Linked DNA regions of Homo sapiens: all the other regions are linked to region 3. Evidence: fine-mapped expression QTL. A gene starts in region 3. Each other region holds a variant in brackets. All regions are shown on one strand. Distances are from middle to middle. Region 1 overlaps CLPX (caseinolytic mitochondrial matrix peptidase chaperone subunit X). Region 2 overlaps HACD3 (3-hydroxyacyl-CoA dehydratase 3). Region 3 holds the start of UBAP1L (ubiquitin associated protein 1 like).

Region 1 (5,190 bases), 55 kb before region 3:
TCCTCCCACCTCAGCATCCTGAATAGCTGAGACTACAGGCAAATGCCACCCTAGAGACAGGGTCTCATTTATGTTGCCCAGGCTGGTCCCGAACTCTTGGGCTCAAGTGATCCTCCTGCCTTGGCTTCCCAAAGTGCTGGGATTTTTGTGCTACCTCCTGGGACTCACTGTGGTTTTGATTTGCATTTCCCTAATGACTAATGATGTTAATCTTTTCTTAGGTTTATTGGCCATTTGTCTGTCTTCTTTGGAGAAGTGTCAATTTAAATCCTTTGTCTTTCTTTTTCTTTCCCCCCAGACGGAGTTTCGCTCTTATTGCCCAGACTGGAGTGCAGTGGTGTGATCGAGGCTCACTGCAACCTCCACCTCTCGGATTCAAGCAGTTCTCAGCCTCAGGCTCCTGAGTAGCTGGGATTACAGGCGCCTGCCAACATGCCCGGCTAATTTTTTTGTATTTTTAGTAGAGATGGGGGTTTCACCATCTTGGCCAAGCTGGTCTTGAACTCCTGACCTTGTGATCCGCCCACCTCAGCCTCCCAAACCAACAACATTTTATGTAAAGAAATATAGGATACTTGTAGTAGCTGTTTAAAGGAAAGAATTTATCTCCTGGTAACTTAACAAAATTAGATTTTTGCCCCTTGTTTTTGGAGTAAAAATGCATTGGCCAGGCATGGTGGTTCATGCCTGTAATGCCAGCCGTTTGGAAGGCCAAGGCGGGTGGATCACCTGAGGTTGGGAGTTTGAGACCAGCCTGACCAACATGGAGAAACCCCATCTCTACTAAAAATACAAAATTAGCTGGGTGTGGTGGCGCATGCTTGTAATCCCAGCTACTCGGGAGGCGGAGGTTGCGGTGAGCTGAGATCGCGCCATTGCACTCCAGCCTGGGCAACAAGAGTGAAACTCTGTCTCAAAAAACAAAACAAAACAAAAAAGTGCATTGCAATGCTTGTATTTTTTTTTCCCAAAATAGCATTTTGATAAATAACATTGAATCCTTGAATTTAGGGATATGTTGAAAATATGTCAGTGTAAAATTGTGTTGCAAATATTCAAGTCAAATTTAAGCAACCTTTCAACAATAAGCAAAGAGGGATGTGATTTGTTGGTGTTTAATCATTTTCCTTTTGATCTAATTTCCTTAGAGAAATATTTTGTACTTGTGCTCTCAGGCCAGATTTTCCTGTCACACTGCCTGAACTAGATCAGCGGCTTCTCTGCCCTTTAATCCTTGCCCTGTTTACCATCAGTAACAATTGTAAACTAGTGCCTCATCATTATAAAGGCAGTAACTATCTTTCCCATTGATGGGAAGTGGTGATTATTTACTTAGGCTTGTGTTAGTCACAGATGCTTCAAATAGCTTGATCTTTTTCTTTAAGCATTTATACGTGATCAGCAAATAGGAAACATGGATGAAACCGCTTATTCCTTAAAATTTGCTAATAGAATTTATCCGAAATGTTTTTTTTTTTTTTGAGACTGAGTCTCGCTCTATTGCCCAGGCTGAAGTGCAGTGGTGTGATCCCAGCTCACTACAACCTCTGCTTTCCAGGTTCAAGCAATTCTCGTGCCTCAGCCTCCCCAGTTGCTAGGATTACAGGCACAAGACAACACGCCCGGATAATTTGTATATTTTTAGTAATGACAGGGTTTCACTATGTTGGCTAGGCTGGTCTTGAACTCCTGACCTTAAGTGATCCACCTGCCTCAGCCTCCCAGAGTGCTAGGATTACAGGCGTTAGCCACCTTGGCCGGCCCAGAATGTGTTTTTAATTAGTCTTGTGTTTAAGAACAGAAACATGGCTGGGCGCAGTGGCTCATGCCTGTAATCCCAGCACTTTGGGAGGCTGAGGTGGGTGTTTCATGAGGTCAGAAGATCGAGACCATCCTGGCCAACATGGTGAAACCCCATCTCTACTAAAAGTACAAAAATGAGCTGGGTGTGGTGGCATGCACCTGTAGTCCCAGCTACTCCAGAGGCTGAGGCAGGAGAATTGCTTGGACCCAGGAGGCGGAGGTTGCAGTGAGCCCAGATCGTGCCACTGCACTCCAGTCTGGGTGACAGAATGAGACTCCGTCTCAAAAAAAAAAAAAAAAAAGAAGAACAGAAACACAAGAATTGATTGAATTGATAATGAAGTGGTTTTGTTTGTTTTTGAGACAGAGTTCTGTTGCCTAGGCTGGAGTATAGTGACGTGGTCTTGGCTCACTGCAACCTCCGCCTCCCAGGTAACCATCAAGGGATTCTCCTGCCTCAGCCTCTCAGGTAGCTGGGATTACAGGCACCCGCCACCACACCTGGCTAATTTTTGTATTTTTAGTAAAGACAGGGTTTCGCCATGTTGGCCAGGGTGGTCTCAAACTCCTGACCTCAGGTGATCCACCCGCCTCGGCCTCCCAAAGTGCTGGGATTACAGGCCTGAGCCACCCCGCTCAGCCTAAAGTTGTTTTTTTAATATGGAATTGTCTACTTTTTTCATTTAGATTAGTTTGTAAAGACGTAGGTGTGCTTGCTAGTGCAGTGTTCCCTATAATCTGTGGATAGATATTTATATTTAAAATTTTCCCAAAGGAAAAAAAATTCCATGAATTTTTTTTTTTCTCTGCAGTTCTCTCTTTCTAGTTGGGTTACACAAAAATGTATTACTTAGACATACTAGCTTTGTATTTGCCACCTGTACCTATAAGAGATTCTCTACCAAATTGCTTTCTGAGGTCCCCGGTTACCATTAGTAGGGTTAGGCTGAGTTAAGCATGTATGTCCAAACCCAGCTACTTGGGAGGTGGGAGGATCCCTTGAGAACAGAAATTTGAGGCTAGCCTGGACAACATAGCAAGACAGCAGCTCTTAAAAAAAAAGTCGCTGGGTGCGGTGGCTCATGCCTGTAATCCCAGCACTTTGGGAGGCTGAGGCAGGCGGATCACCTGAGGTCAGGAATTTGAGACCAGCCTGACCAACATGGTCAAACCCCATCTCTACTAAAAAATACAAAATTAGCCGGGCGTGGTGACACATGCCTGTAATCCCAGCTACTTCGGAGGCTGAGGCAAGAGAATTGCTTGAACCCTGGAGGCGAGGC[G/A]AAGGTTGCAGTAAGCCGAGATTGCACCATTGCACACTAGTCTGGGCAACAAGAGCGAAACTCTGTCTCAAAAAAAAAAAAAAGTAAATATATCCATATATCTACATCCTATAACCATGTGTTGTTTTATGTTTATTTGTTTTGTTTATAATAAGAGGGCACGATGGGCACCATCTCGGCTCACTGCAACCTCTGCCTCCCAGGTTCAAGCAGTTCTCCTGCCTCAGCCTGCTGAGTAGCTGGGTTTACAGGTAGTTACCATGCCCGGCTAGTTTTTGTATTTTTAGTAGAGACAGGGTTTCACCATGTTGGCCAGGCTGGTCTTGAACTCCTAAGCTCAAGTGATCCACCCGTCTTGGCCTTCCAAAGTGCTGGGTTTACAGGTGTGAGCCACTGTGCCCCGCCAACATCCTATAACCATGTTTTGAAAAGAAAGAGTAGGCTGGCCTCAGTGGGTCACGCCTGTAATCCCAAGCACTTTCGGAGGCCAAGGTGGGAGGGTTACTCGAGTCCAGGAGTTTGAGACCCGCCTGGGCAACATCATGAGACCCTGTCTCTACAGAAGATTTTTAAAAGTAGGCAGGCATCGGCCGGGCGCAGTGGCTCATGCCTGTAATCCCAGCACTTTGGGAGGCCGAGGCGGGCAGATCACGAGGTCAGGAGATCGAGAGGCGCCTGTAGTCCCAGCTACTCGGGAGGCTAAGGCAGGAGAATGGCGTGAACCTGGGAGGTGGAGCTTGCAGTGAGGCGAGATTGTACCACTGCACTCCAGCCTGGGCGACAGAGCAAGACTCCATCTCAAAAAAAAAAAAAAAAAGTAGGCAGGCGTGGTGGCGTGTGCCTGTAGTCCTGGATACTCAGGGAGGCTGAGGTGGGAGGATTGCTTGAGCTTAGGAGGTCAAGACTGCAGTGAGTAGTGATCACGCCACTGCACTTCAGCCTGGGCAACAGAGCGATACCCTGTCTCAAAAAAAAAAAAGAGAAAAGAAAAATAAATCACCTTTAACATAGGATATACTGTAGCTGATCCATTGGAATTGAGAAATCCTTATAAATGTATTCATCCACTGTGTATCCGCAAAGTTTTTTTTTTAATTATACTTTAAGTTCTAGGGTACACATGTACAACGTGCAGGTTTGTTACATAGGTATACATGTGCCATGTTGGTGTGCTGCACCCGTTAACTCATCATTTACATTAGGTATATCTCCTAATGCTATCCCTCCCCCCTCCCCCCACCCCATGACAGGCCCCGGTGTGTGATGTTCCCCACCCTGTGTCCAAGTGTTCTCATTGTTCAGTTCCCATCTATGAGTGAGAACATGCGGTGTTTGGTTTTCTGTCCTTGCGATAGTTTGCTCAGAATGATGGTTTCTAGCTTCATCCATGTCCCTACAAAGGACATGAACTCATCACTGTGTATCCACAAATTTTTTTTTTTTTTTTTTTTTTTTTTTGAGACAGAGTCTCACTTTGTCGCCCAGGCTGGAGTGCAGTGGTGCAATCTCATCTCACTGCAAGCTCCACCTCCCGGGTTCATACCATTCTCCTGCCTCAGCCTCCCGAGCAGCTGGGACTACAGGCGCCCACCACCACACCCAGCTAATTTTTCTATTTTTAGTAGAGACAGGGTTTTACCGTGTTAGCCAGGTCTCGATCTCCTGACCTCGTGATCTGTCCCCCTCGGCCTCCCAAAGTGCTGGGATTACAGGCCTGAGCCACCATGCCTGGCCAAAAATTTTTAAAAGAAAAAAGAGACTCTTTTTATCCTCACTTTAAACTACCTTTGTATTGCTTTCAAAGTCTGCATGATTATCTTTAAATCCAATCAGTATGACTGAGAAAGCAGTATTTTGTTAGTTTCTTAGTGGTTTTTTGATCAGAGAAATAGGAACTAGTGGAGTAAAGATAAAATAAGAAAGATATGAAATAATTATATATATATTTTTTTCTGAGATGGAGTCTTGCTCTATCTCCCAGGCTGGAGTGCAATGGCGCAATCTCAGCTCACTGCAACCTCCACCTCCTGGGTTCAAGCGATTCTCCTGCCTCAGCCTCCCGAGTAGCTGGGATTACAGGTGTCTGCCACCACGCCCAGCTAAT
Region 2 (5,416 bases), 430 kb before region 3:
AAACCCAGCATCTTCATTGTACAGGTCCAGAGAAGTCAATAACTTGTCCAAGATAGCGGCAGAATTAGAGCTAGAAGACACGTCTCCTGATTTCTAACCCAGGATTCTTTTTTTTTTTTTCCTTCACTGTATCTACTGCCTCTCCATGGGGGAAACAGGATTTTAAACCAATTCTTTGACTTTTCTAATCATATATTTCAAAACAATTTAGCTTACCTCATGAGGATCAGAGGCGTGAACATCAGCAAAAAACAAGTAAGACAAATACATTTTTTTAAAAAAGGGAAACCACCACCACACCTCCTTAACTGTGTATAGAGATGGGAGCATTTGCTGGGATACTGACCTTTGAAATGCAGCACGTTTTCAGTGATGCTGATGGCAGGGTTCTGTGAAAAGAGACCAAGGATGCAAGAAGGCATTTTAATGAAGAGAAAAAATGAGATTAAACAAGGGGCTTCTTCCCCTCATCCCTCTCCCATAAGGACTCAAACTCCTACTCTGTGCCTCCCCCAGAAATATATTTAGTCATTTATTCACATCTCTGTAGGCTTTCTCTATGTCTGTCTGTACCTATCTAAGACTGCAGACTCCTGCAAGAAGGACCCTAACCTGCTCTAACTGTGCAAACAATCAAGTACTGAATTAGTCCATTCTGAAAATGGCCAGTCATGCAAGGTGCTATGTGAGATATGACACGGGAATACAGAGATCTCCAGGACTCAACCCCTGAGCTGTAGAACAGAGGATCCAGTGGGACAGATGAGGCACTTTCTGTGAGAAGATATCAAATAGTTATTAAGAAACATATGGTCAAGACGAAAAGGGTGGTAAAAGGCAGTAAGTGTTAGCAGAGTTAGGAGAGAGAGAGAGCACAACAGGAATAGAGTGGTGGGGAAAAGCTTCACCAAAGGTGAGACCTGTACTGCAACCTGAATGATAAATTAATTCCAACAGGTAGAGGGAAGGGCAGAGGATTGCAGGTGGTGAATGAAAATGAAACACGCTGTGCCTGTGTCTCTAACTTAGAGGCTCCAGACTCTCTTAACCCCCAAAGGAAACAAGACTCGGGAGAGGTCAAAATTCTCCAGACTGCTCATTGATTCCCAGAAGTTGCTACATACCTTCAATTTAGCATCATAATGTAAAGTGAAACTACTTAACACTTTTTCCAGTGGATGAGAAACAACCCAACTCCTACTTCCAGCTCAAGGTTAACAAGCAAGAGGCAGCTCCTTCCCAGTGTCACGGTGTTTGTTTTTCTTCTGTGGGCTTAGCTTTCTGTGTTCCCCAACTACAGCTGTCATCTGACCACAACCTCATGAGATTCCAAGCCAGAACAACCCAACAGAGCCCCTCCTGAAGTCCTAACCCACAGAAACTGTGAGAGACAATAAACGACTATTGTTGCTTTAAGCCACTACATATTGGGTGATTTGTTATGTAGCAACAGATTAACAAATAATTATTAACTGCAATTATTTATTTAAATGCTTGGTAGAACTTCCAGGTGAAGCCATTTAGACCTGCAAGTTTCCCTGTGGGAAGATTTTTGACTACTGAATCCATGTATTTAATGGTTATTGGGCTATCCAGGTTTTCTATCTCTTTTATAGAAACTGTCTTTATTTCTTGGAATTTATCCATTTTATCTGATATGAACTTGTTTAATATTTTCTTTCTTTTTTTTGAAAAATTCACCCAGGCTGGAGTGCAATGGCTCAGTCTCGGCTCACTGTAACCTCTGCCTCCCAGGTTCAGGCGATTCTCCTGCCTCAGCCTCCTGAGTAGCTGGTATTACAGGCGACTGCCATCATGCCCGGCTAATTTTTGTATTTTTGCAGAGACGAGGTTTCACCATGTTGGCCAGGCTAGTCTTGAACTCCTGACCTCAGGTGATCTGCCTGCCTCGGCCTCCCAAAGTGCTGGGATTACAGGCATGAGCTACTGTGTCCAGCCTAGATGCATATAACTTAATATTGTTGTATCTTCCTGGTAAACTGAAACCTTATCATTATGAACTGCCCTTTCTATCTCTAAAAATACACTTGTGCCTAAAAGTCTATTTTGTGTGATATCAGCATAGCTACTACAGAGGATCGATCTGCATTTGCTTCTGCCAGGGACCTAGGGGTCCTACCAGTTGAGGCCACTTTAAACTAAATGCATGGCTTGAGGGTTCTCAAGTTTAGAGTTTTGGTTCTCCTAAATTGTGTGAATTTGGGCTACATAACCTTTGAGAGCCAACTTACAGTTTTAACTTCTCAAGGACCTTTTCTTCTATTAATACTTAGCTAAGTGTTAAGGCAACTGGAGACAGGCAGATGGAATGGGCTTATTTCTAGTTCATCCTAACCCTAAGTGTATAGTCCTCTCTGAAATACGGTTTATGGAGAAGATTTCCTATTACATGTTACACCTTTGGTGGGTCTTGGGCTTTGATCTTTTTTTTTTTTTTTTTTTTTGAGATGGAATCTCGCTTTGTCACCCAGGCTGGAGTACAGTGGCGCCATCTCAATTCACTGCAACCTCCACCTCCCAGGCTCAAGCGATTCTTCTGCTTCAGCCTCCCGAGCAGCTGGGATTACAGGTGTGCGCCACCACACCCAGCTAATTTTTTTTTTTTTTTTTTTTTTTTCCCAGCAGAGATGGGATTACACCATATTGGTCAGGCTGGTCTCAAACTCCTGACATTGTGATCCGCCCACCTC[G/A]GCCTCCCAAAGTGCTGGGACTACAGCTGTGAGCCACCGCACCAGGCTGGGTTTGACCTTACTTCTATTGCCTGCGCCCTGTTGGGCTGTCAAAACCAAAGTTCAAGTTCACTTAGTTGAGCAAATGTTCGCAAGGCAAAAGCAGTTTCCACGTTCAGCTTATCTGAGTTCCCAATTTCATTTCTACCGTGTTAACTTTTCGATGTTTTTAAGACATTTTTATTCAACACTTTTAGTTGTTTTTATTAGAAAGCTCAATCTACACAACCTAGCCCATCTCTTACAAGAAAAGAAACTGTGCCTTTGCTTATGAAAGGAGGAGTGAACAGCCAGGCCCGGTGCCATGCACCTATAGTCCCAGCTACCGGGGAGGCTGAAGTGGGAGGATCACTTGAACCCAGGGGTTCAAATGCAGCTAGGGGAACATACATAGCAAGTAGTCAGACCCTGTCTCTAATTCTTTTAAAAAATAAAAAGAGAAAGAGAGTGGCTGGGCAAGGTAGCTCATGCCTATAATCCCAACACTTCGGGAGGCCTACGCAGGAAGATCACTTGAGCCCAGGAGTTCAAGACCAGCCTGAACAACATAGACCGTCTCTACAAAAATAAAAAAATTAGCCAAGTGTGGTGGCACATGCCTGCGGTCCCAGCTACTTGGGAGGCTAAGCTGGGAGGACAACTTGAGCCCAGGAGGTCGAAGCTGCAGTGAGCTTTTATTGCACCACTGCATTCCAGCCTGGATGACAGACTAAGACCCTGTCTCAAAAAAAGGAGTGAAGAGGGAAAAGGGAATACGAAAATTTTCAAATCATCTTAATCATCTTTTTTTTTTTTTTTTTTTGAGACAGAATCTCCCTCTGTCACCCAGGGCTGGAGTGAAGTGGTGCAATCTCGGCTCACTGCAGCCTCCATCTCCCAGGCTCAAGGATCCTCCCACCTTAGCCTCTCAAGTATCTGGGACTACAGGTCCACATCACCATGCCTGGCTAATATCTTTTTTAAATTTTTTGCAGAGACAAGTCTCACTATGTTGCCCAGGCTGGTCCCGAACTCCTGGGCTCAAGTAATCCTCCACCTCAGCCTACCAAACTGCTGGGATTACAGGCATGAGCCACCATGCCCAGCCATAATTTTAAAAATAACAATAAAATCACTTACATCACAGGTCTGCTGTAAGGATTAAGTTATAATAGCACACACAGACCCTGGCAACTAGTAAGAATTCACATTCCAGTTGCTTTTTTTCCTCTGACTAAAGTGCCCATCTAAGTTTCCATGCCTGTTGAACACTACTTCTCTTTCAAAGTTCAGGTCAAATGTTAATTCCTGTTCTCTCCTCCTCACCCTAACATCAGAATCAACAGTTTCCTTCCTACTTTGTATTCACCTTTACTATAATACTTATCACACTGTTCCACAATCATTGTTGATCATTTAACTGCCCCTCTTGACCTGACTTCTTTGATGGCAGGGACTGTGTCTTATTCATTTCCATATACCTAATGCCTCAATAACTGTTAAGTGAACTGAAATCAATTCATCCCATTTTCAGAATCTCTGGCAGAACTACAAAGAGTTCACAATAAACTACCTGCTATCTAACCCTTTAGACAAGAGTTTCCTTTCTCATTCAAATCATTAGTATTTATCTTCAAATTTATGTGATTAGTATGTGTGCAGAAGAGTTAATATAGCAAGCCTGAGGCTGCAGTCTTTAAAAGGGCCTGCTTCCAAGATCAGCCTTTGGCTGGCATCTATCTAGAAACTCGGCTTTCCTCCATCACCTAACTAATAAGGGTGGTCCAATGTTCCTAAACTGTGCCTACAAACAATGTGATTTATGGTGAATATCAACTTTCCTTCTAGGAGCCTGAAATTTTGGTACATGTTAGGCAGAGGTTACCTAAGTAACAAGCCCCAATAAAAATCATGGGTACTTGGCCGGGCGCGGTGGCTCATGCCTGTAATCCCAGCACTTTGGGAGGCCAAGGTGGGTGGATCATGAGGTCAGGAGTTCGAGACCAGCCTGACCAATATGGTGAAACCCTGTCTCTACTAAAAATACAAAAATTAGCCAGGCATGATGGCGTGCGCCTGTAATCCCAGCTACTCAAGAGGCTGAGGCAGGAGAATTGCTTGAACCCAGGAGGCGGAGGTTGCAGTGAGCCGAGATCAGGCCACTGCACTCCAGCCTCGGTGACAGAGTGAGACTCCGTCTCAAAAAAAAAAAAAATCCTGGGAACTCAATCACTAACGGGCTTCCCTGGGCAGAAAAGTTATACATAAGTCATTGCATTTTTCGTCGCTGGTGGAGTGTGCTCAAATATACCCCCTCACAGGAGGAAGAATGATAAAGAGGCTTATACGTGGATTTCTCCAGACTCCACTTGTGCTTTTTTTCCTTTACTGATCCTGTCCTGTATTCTCCAGCTGTAACAAACCTTAGTCATGAGTACAATTATATACTAAGTCCCATGAATCCTTCGAGCAAATCACTGAGCACACTGGTGGCTGCCGGGGAACCCCAAAACTCTGTGTATTTTTAATGTGATCCTTTTCACCCCAATGTTTTATTTTGAAAACATTTAAATCTACAAAAAAATTGAAAAACTAGGCCAGGCATGGTGGCTCACACCTGCAATCCCAGCACTTTGGAAGGCCAAAGCAGGCAGATCACTTGATGCCAGTAGTTTGGGACCAGCCTG
Region 3 (5,000 bases):
GAACTTAGAAAACCTGAAGAGTACCCAAATTGGATTGTATTTTAATGGACAATGGCTGTATTTTTTCCATGTTAGAAGGATCCTAATGAAAGCACCTGTTATTTTTAAGTTTCTAAGGGTCTAGTTGTTCAGAATCCCCAAGGATATTTCCCTAACCTCACTCAGTCACATTGTAGGAGCCAGTGTAGCTATGGAATTATCTTAGGAACTCAAGCTTCTAAAACTATCCATGTAGTCAAATCTAGGGGAAAAAGCAAATAAAAATAGTAAAATTTGGCCGGGCACAGTGGCTCACGCCTGTAATCCCAACACTTTGGGAGGCCGAGGCGGGCCGATCACGAGGTCAGGAGATCAAGGCCATCCTGGCTAACACGGTGAAACCCTGTCTCTACTAAAAATACAAAAAAATATTAGCTGGGCGTAGGTGGTGCACACCTGTAGTCCCAGCTACTGGGGAGGCTGAGGCAGGAGAATGGTGTAAAACCCAGGAGGCAGAGCTTGCAGTGAGCCGAGATCGCGCCACGGCACTCCAGCCTGGGAGACAGAGCAAGACTCCGTCTCAAAAAAAAAAAAAGTAAAATTTATTTTTTATATTCATTAATAAATGCTGTTGTGCTTGGAGATGATCACTCATATAACATGTCATTTTTTTGGTTCTGTTTTGGTTTGGTTTTTGCCAATTATTTTGTTATATTTCCAAAAAACTAAATAAAAATCATTTTTATTTTTTAGTTTGTGCCTTTGCTGCCAATTTGTTGCCTTCCAAATCACTTAACACACACTTTCACATTGATGAAACATATTTTCATTCAAAAATTCAAATTTATTAAGCAGGCATTTGTTACAGGAATTTGAATCTTAAATGCTAAACTTTATCTGCAAAATCCAAGTCTGGATTGGTAAGGATACCATCAATTTTGGAAATAATGTTACGTACTGTAGTTGGAAGCTTTTGGGTGCAAGATACTAATGGCTTTGTCCCTTTTCTGTTGTTTAATTTGCATTAATTTATACATTATATAGAGTCAACAGATAGGGAATGAGGGCCACATGTCTCCAAAATGTATGTCTACGCTTATAAATCTTAAAATCTGATATGATTACCCTCATAGAGCTCCACAATCCTGTGTGCCTTTTTGTTAGATATCTCCACCATTTGCTCTCTGATGAGATGCAGGAAGAGTAGAAATAAGGTGAATTGTACGATGTGTGTTTGGTGTCTGGACAGCCTTGCCACTAAGATATCTGCTGTGAGGGCAGGGAATGTGCTGCAGGGACTCAGGAAAACTCGGACAGCAGAACCCAAGAAGGTGGCATTTAGCCACAGATGGAGAAAAAAAAAATCCCTTTTTCCTTTGGCCCTTGCAAGGTTTTAATAAAGTGATCAGGCTGGGTGTGGTGGCTCACGCCTGTAATCCCAGCACTTTGGGAGACCAAGGTAGATGGATCACTTGAGGTCAGGAGTTCAAGACCTGCCTGGCCAACATGGTGAAACCCCATCTATACTAAAAATACAAAAATTAGTCAGGCATGGTGGCAGGCGCCTGTAATCCCAGCTACTTGGGAGGCTGAGGCAGGAGAATCACTTGAAGCCAGGAGGCGGAGGTTGCAGTGAGCTGAGATCACACCATTGCACTCCAGCCTGGGCAATAGAGCGAGACTCTGTCTCAAAACAAAGAAAATTAAAAAACAAAACAAAACATGAGCATTACTCTTGTTCGGTTTTTATTTGTAAGATTTTCCTGGTTTATTACCTGTGTGTAGTGGTGGTGGCAGTAGCCACTGGTTCTTTCAGGTTTAGAGAGACTCATGGTAGTATCTTTAATGAATTGTACTTTCAAGAATATGAGCAGTGTTATTGTAATGTTATCCCACAGTCTTTTTTTTTCTTTTTTTAACTTGGGGAAAATTTCAAATACATTCAAAAGTAAAGAGAATAGTACAATGATTTTTTTCCATGTACCCATCATCCAGCTTCAAATCATTATCAGCTTATGGCCAATCTTGTTTCATCTATACATCCTCCACTCACCCTGGATTATTTTGAAGCAAATCTCAGGCATCAAATTACTTCATCTGTAAATATTTCATTATGTAGCTTTAAGTGATTAAAAAAAAAATCTAACTACAGGGCCATTATCACATCTAAATAAAGGAGTAACAACTCCTGAATATCACAAATATCCAATCATTGTTCAAATTGCCCTCTCGTAAATGTTTTACGTTTTGTTCAAATTAGGATCTGAATAGACTCCATACACTGTTGTTTGCATCCTTGTGATGCCATGTCCCTCTGTTCTCGTATGTCCTATAATTTAGTAGTTAAACAGAGCTGTACTGTCCAATATAGTAGCCACATTCAGCTGTTGAGCACTTGAAATGTGATCTATTTGAGTTGAGATGTGCAATTACATATGTGGATCACGTTTCAATTGGATAGTGCTGATCTAGAGGCTTGATCACATTCAGATTGGAATTTTCTGGCAGGAATACTTCACAGACATAATGTGTACTTCCAGTCAGGAGGCACTGATGTCTTGGCTTTTTTTGTGATGTTAGCGGCCACTGATAAGACCCAGATTCATTCATTGATGGGGAGGGGACTCAAAAATAGTGATAGTTTAATTCTGTCATTCTTCAATTATTAACTGGAATACTTTTAAAAAGAAAAACTGTACAAAAGCATTTGTTTTTAATAAATTCGGTAAATACAGAGATTAGAAAGCTATGAGAGAAAGAGATTAGTTCTTAAATACTAAGGGTATTTAGCCCAAGTGGCTGAGTTTATGATGTCAAAGAATTTGCTGCTACAAGCCAACCAACTTAATCACTCTATAAAACCATTCATGCTCCTATGCCCATGTGACATTTGTAACAAGAAGCTTAGGCTTATGCCATCTGTTGTAGCTATTCATTTATACACGCTTTGTCTGCAGGGAAGTTCTCCTGGTAATTACAAGGTAAGTACAAAGTATATCTTATTCCATTTAAATAAGTATAATATGCAATATATGAAAGGAATGTGAACATTCTGAAATAGTAGTGATTTATGGAATAGTGATTAAATGAGACATTATCAACTAAATTTGTTTTTTGCCACCTGTTTGTCCCAGATTTTTTGTAATGCTTAGAACCTATAAGCTATTTCCATATGATGAGCTCTTTACCTTTTTGTGAATCCACATAGTAGTTCCTGGCTTCCTGTATCTGGCCACACATGAAGAGTATGTTTCCATTGCAGAGTTCATTTGCCTTTTGGAATAAATTTGGTTTTTCATAGCCTCCAAAGCAAAGATTAAGGTCTCTGAGGCAAGTGGTGTTAGAGTGCATAACTGTGTAGAACAGTGGACACTTTCCTCAGCTTTGTTAATTCATGCTGGCCACAGTCTGGATACCAGAATTTGAATTATGTTCTATGGGAAATGATTTTTTATTTACCATTTTCCAGGTACTGTGGTTAGGTGCTAGGGATGTAAGAAGGGGTGAACAGACAGGATTCCTGACCTCCTGGAGTTTAGAGTGAAGAAGCTTAATGATTATAACAGAGTCATTAGAGACAATTGTGATAAGTGCTACAAGGAAAAGTACTTATCAGCCAATTTATATATTTCATTCCAAATGTTTAAGTGCCTATTAAAGCTAAGCAAAATGCCAAATACTCCCTAACCTCATACAGAATACAGGCAATGAGGAAGGTAGATATTAACCCAATAATCATAAAAAATATGCTGAGTGCTTTGAAAGAAAGACATGGTTCTGAGATTATGAATTAGGATTTTTCTTCAAAAGCGTTCTGTGACACATTTAGTTGAAATAATAGGAAATATGTATCATATAGTAAGGGTAAGAATCATTATTCAGTTTACATATGTGTATGCTAGGAAATAAAAGTATACTATGGGTCATAGTTAAAAAAAAAAAAAAAAGGCTGGGCGCGGTGGCTCATGCCTGTAATCCCAGCACTTTGCGAGCCCAAGGCAGGTGGATCACAAGGTCACGAGTTCAAGACCAGCCTGGCCAAGATGGTGAAACCCTATCTCTATTAAAAATACAAAAATTAGCGGGCGTGGTGGCAGGTGCTTGTAATCCCAGCTACTCGGGAGGCTGAGGCAGGAGAATCTATTGAACCTGGGAGGCAGAGATTGCAGTGAGCTGAGATCGAGCCACTGCACTCTAGCCTGGGCAACAGAGCAAGACTTCATCTCAAAAAAGTAAAAAATAAAAAACTTTGTAAAGGCCACTGTGCTAGGTAGACCTGACCAAGTTTGAGAGTCAGGGCAAGCTTTTTTGAGGAAGTGATGTTTCAGCTGAGCTCTGAAGAATGAACAGCTTTTTCTTTTCTTTTCTTTTCTTTTTATTCTTGAGACAGACTCTCGCTTTGTCGCCCAGGCTGGAGTGCAGTGGCGTGATCTTGGTTCACTGCAACCTTCGCCTCCCAGGTTCAAGCAGTTCTCTCGTCTCAGTCTCCTGAGTAGCTGTGAGTACAGGCGTGTGCCACTACACCAGGCTAATTTTTGTATTTTTAGTAAAGAGGGGGTTTTGCCATGTTGGCCAGGCAGGTCTCGAACTCCTGACCTCAAGTGATTTGCCCACCTTGGCCTCCCAAAGTGCTGGGATTACAGATGTGAGCCATTGTGCCTGGCATTTGAGCAGCTTTTAATTAATTGTGGGGAAGCAACAGGGAAGAACTTAGCAAGTATCCAGAACAGGATATGCAAAGGTTCTGTGGGGACTGAGAGACCATGGCAGTTGAAGGCTAGCATGACTGGAGTAAGATGGGAGGAGAGGAAACGGGCCAGACACTGCAAGCCTTCAGAAGTTTAATTTTTATTTTGAAAACAGCCAGGAACCATTGAAGAGTTTTAAGTAGGAGAGTGCCTTAGTTTTGTTTCGTTTTGTTTTCTAAAGAAGGGGTCTTGCTATGTTACCCAGGCTGGTCTTTAACTCACGGGCTCCAGCAATCCTCCCACCTCTGCCTCCCAAAGTGTTGGGATTACAGG

The links. PIP is the estimated chance that this variant, and not a neighbour inherited with it, causes the effect.
Region 1: its variant is the best candidate, but not a certain one, in a credible set for the expression of UBAP1L in transverse colon (GTEx, PIP 0.66).
Region 2: its variant is the best candidate, but not a certain one, in a credible set for the expression of UBAP1L in esophagus muscle (GTEx, PIP 0.90).

What each region holds. Positions count from the first base shown.
Region 1 is chr15:65,167,738-65,172,927 of GRCh38, reverse strand. The region is part of intron 3 of CLPX (caseinolytic mitochondrial matrix peptidase chaperone subunit X); the gene reads left to right. Among named protein-coding and RNA genes, the nearest start is that of CLPX, 15 kb to the left of the region's middle. The variant G/A (reference allele first, on the strand shown) is at 3,087.
Region 2 is chr15:65,546,649-65,552,064 of GRCh38, reverse strand. It overlaps HACD3 (3-hydroxyacyl-CoA dehydratase 3), which reads right to left. Exons shown (of 11, transcript NM_016395.4): 2 at 347-389. Among named protein-coding and RNA genes, the nearest start is that of HACD3, 19 kb to the right of the region's middle. The variant G/A (reference allele first, on the strand shown) is at 2,712.
Region 3 is chr15:65,113,110-65,118,109 of GRCh38, reverse strand. It overlaps UBAP1L (ubiquitin associated protein 1 like), which reads left to right and starts at 2,910. Exons shown (of 6, transcript NM_001163692.2): 1 at 2,910-2,960. PDCD7 (programmed cell death 7) reads left to right here. Exons shown (of 5, transcript NM_005707.2): 5 at 1-731.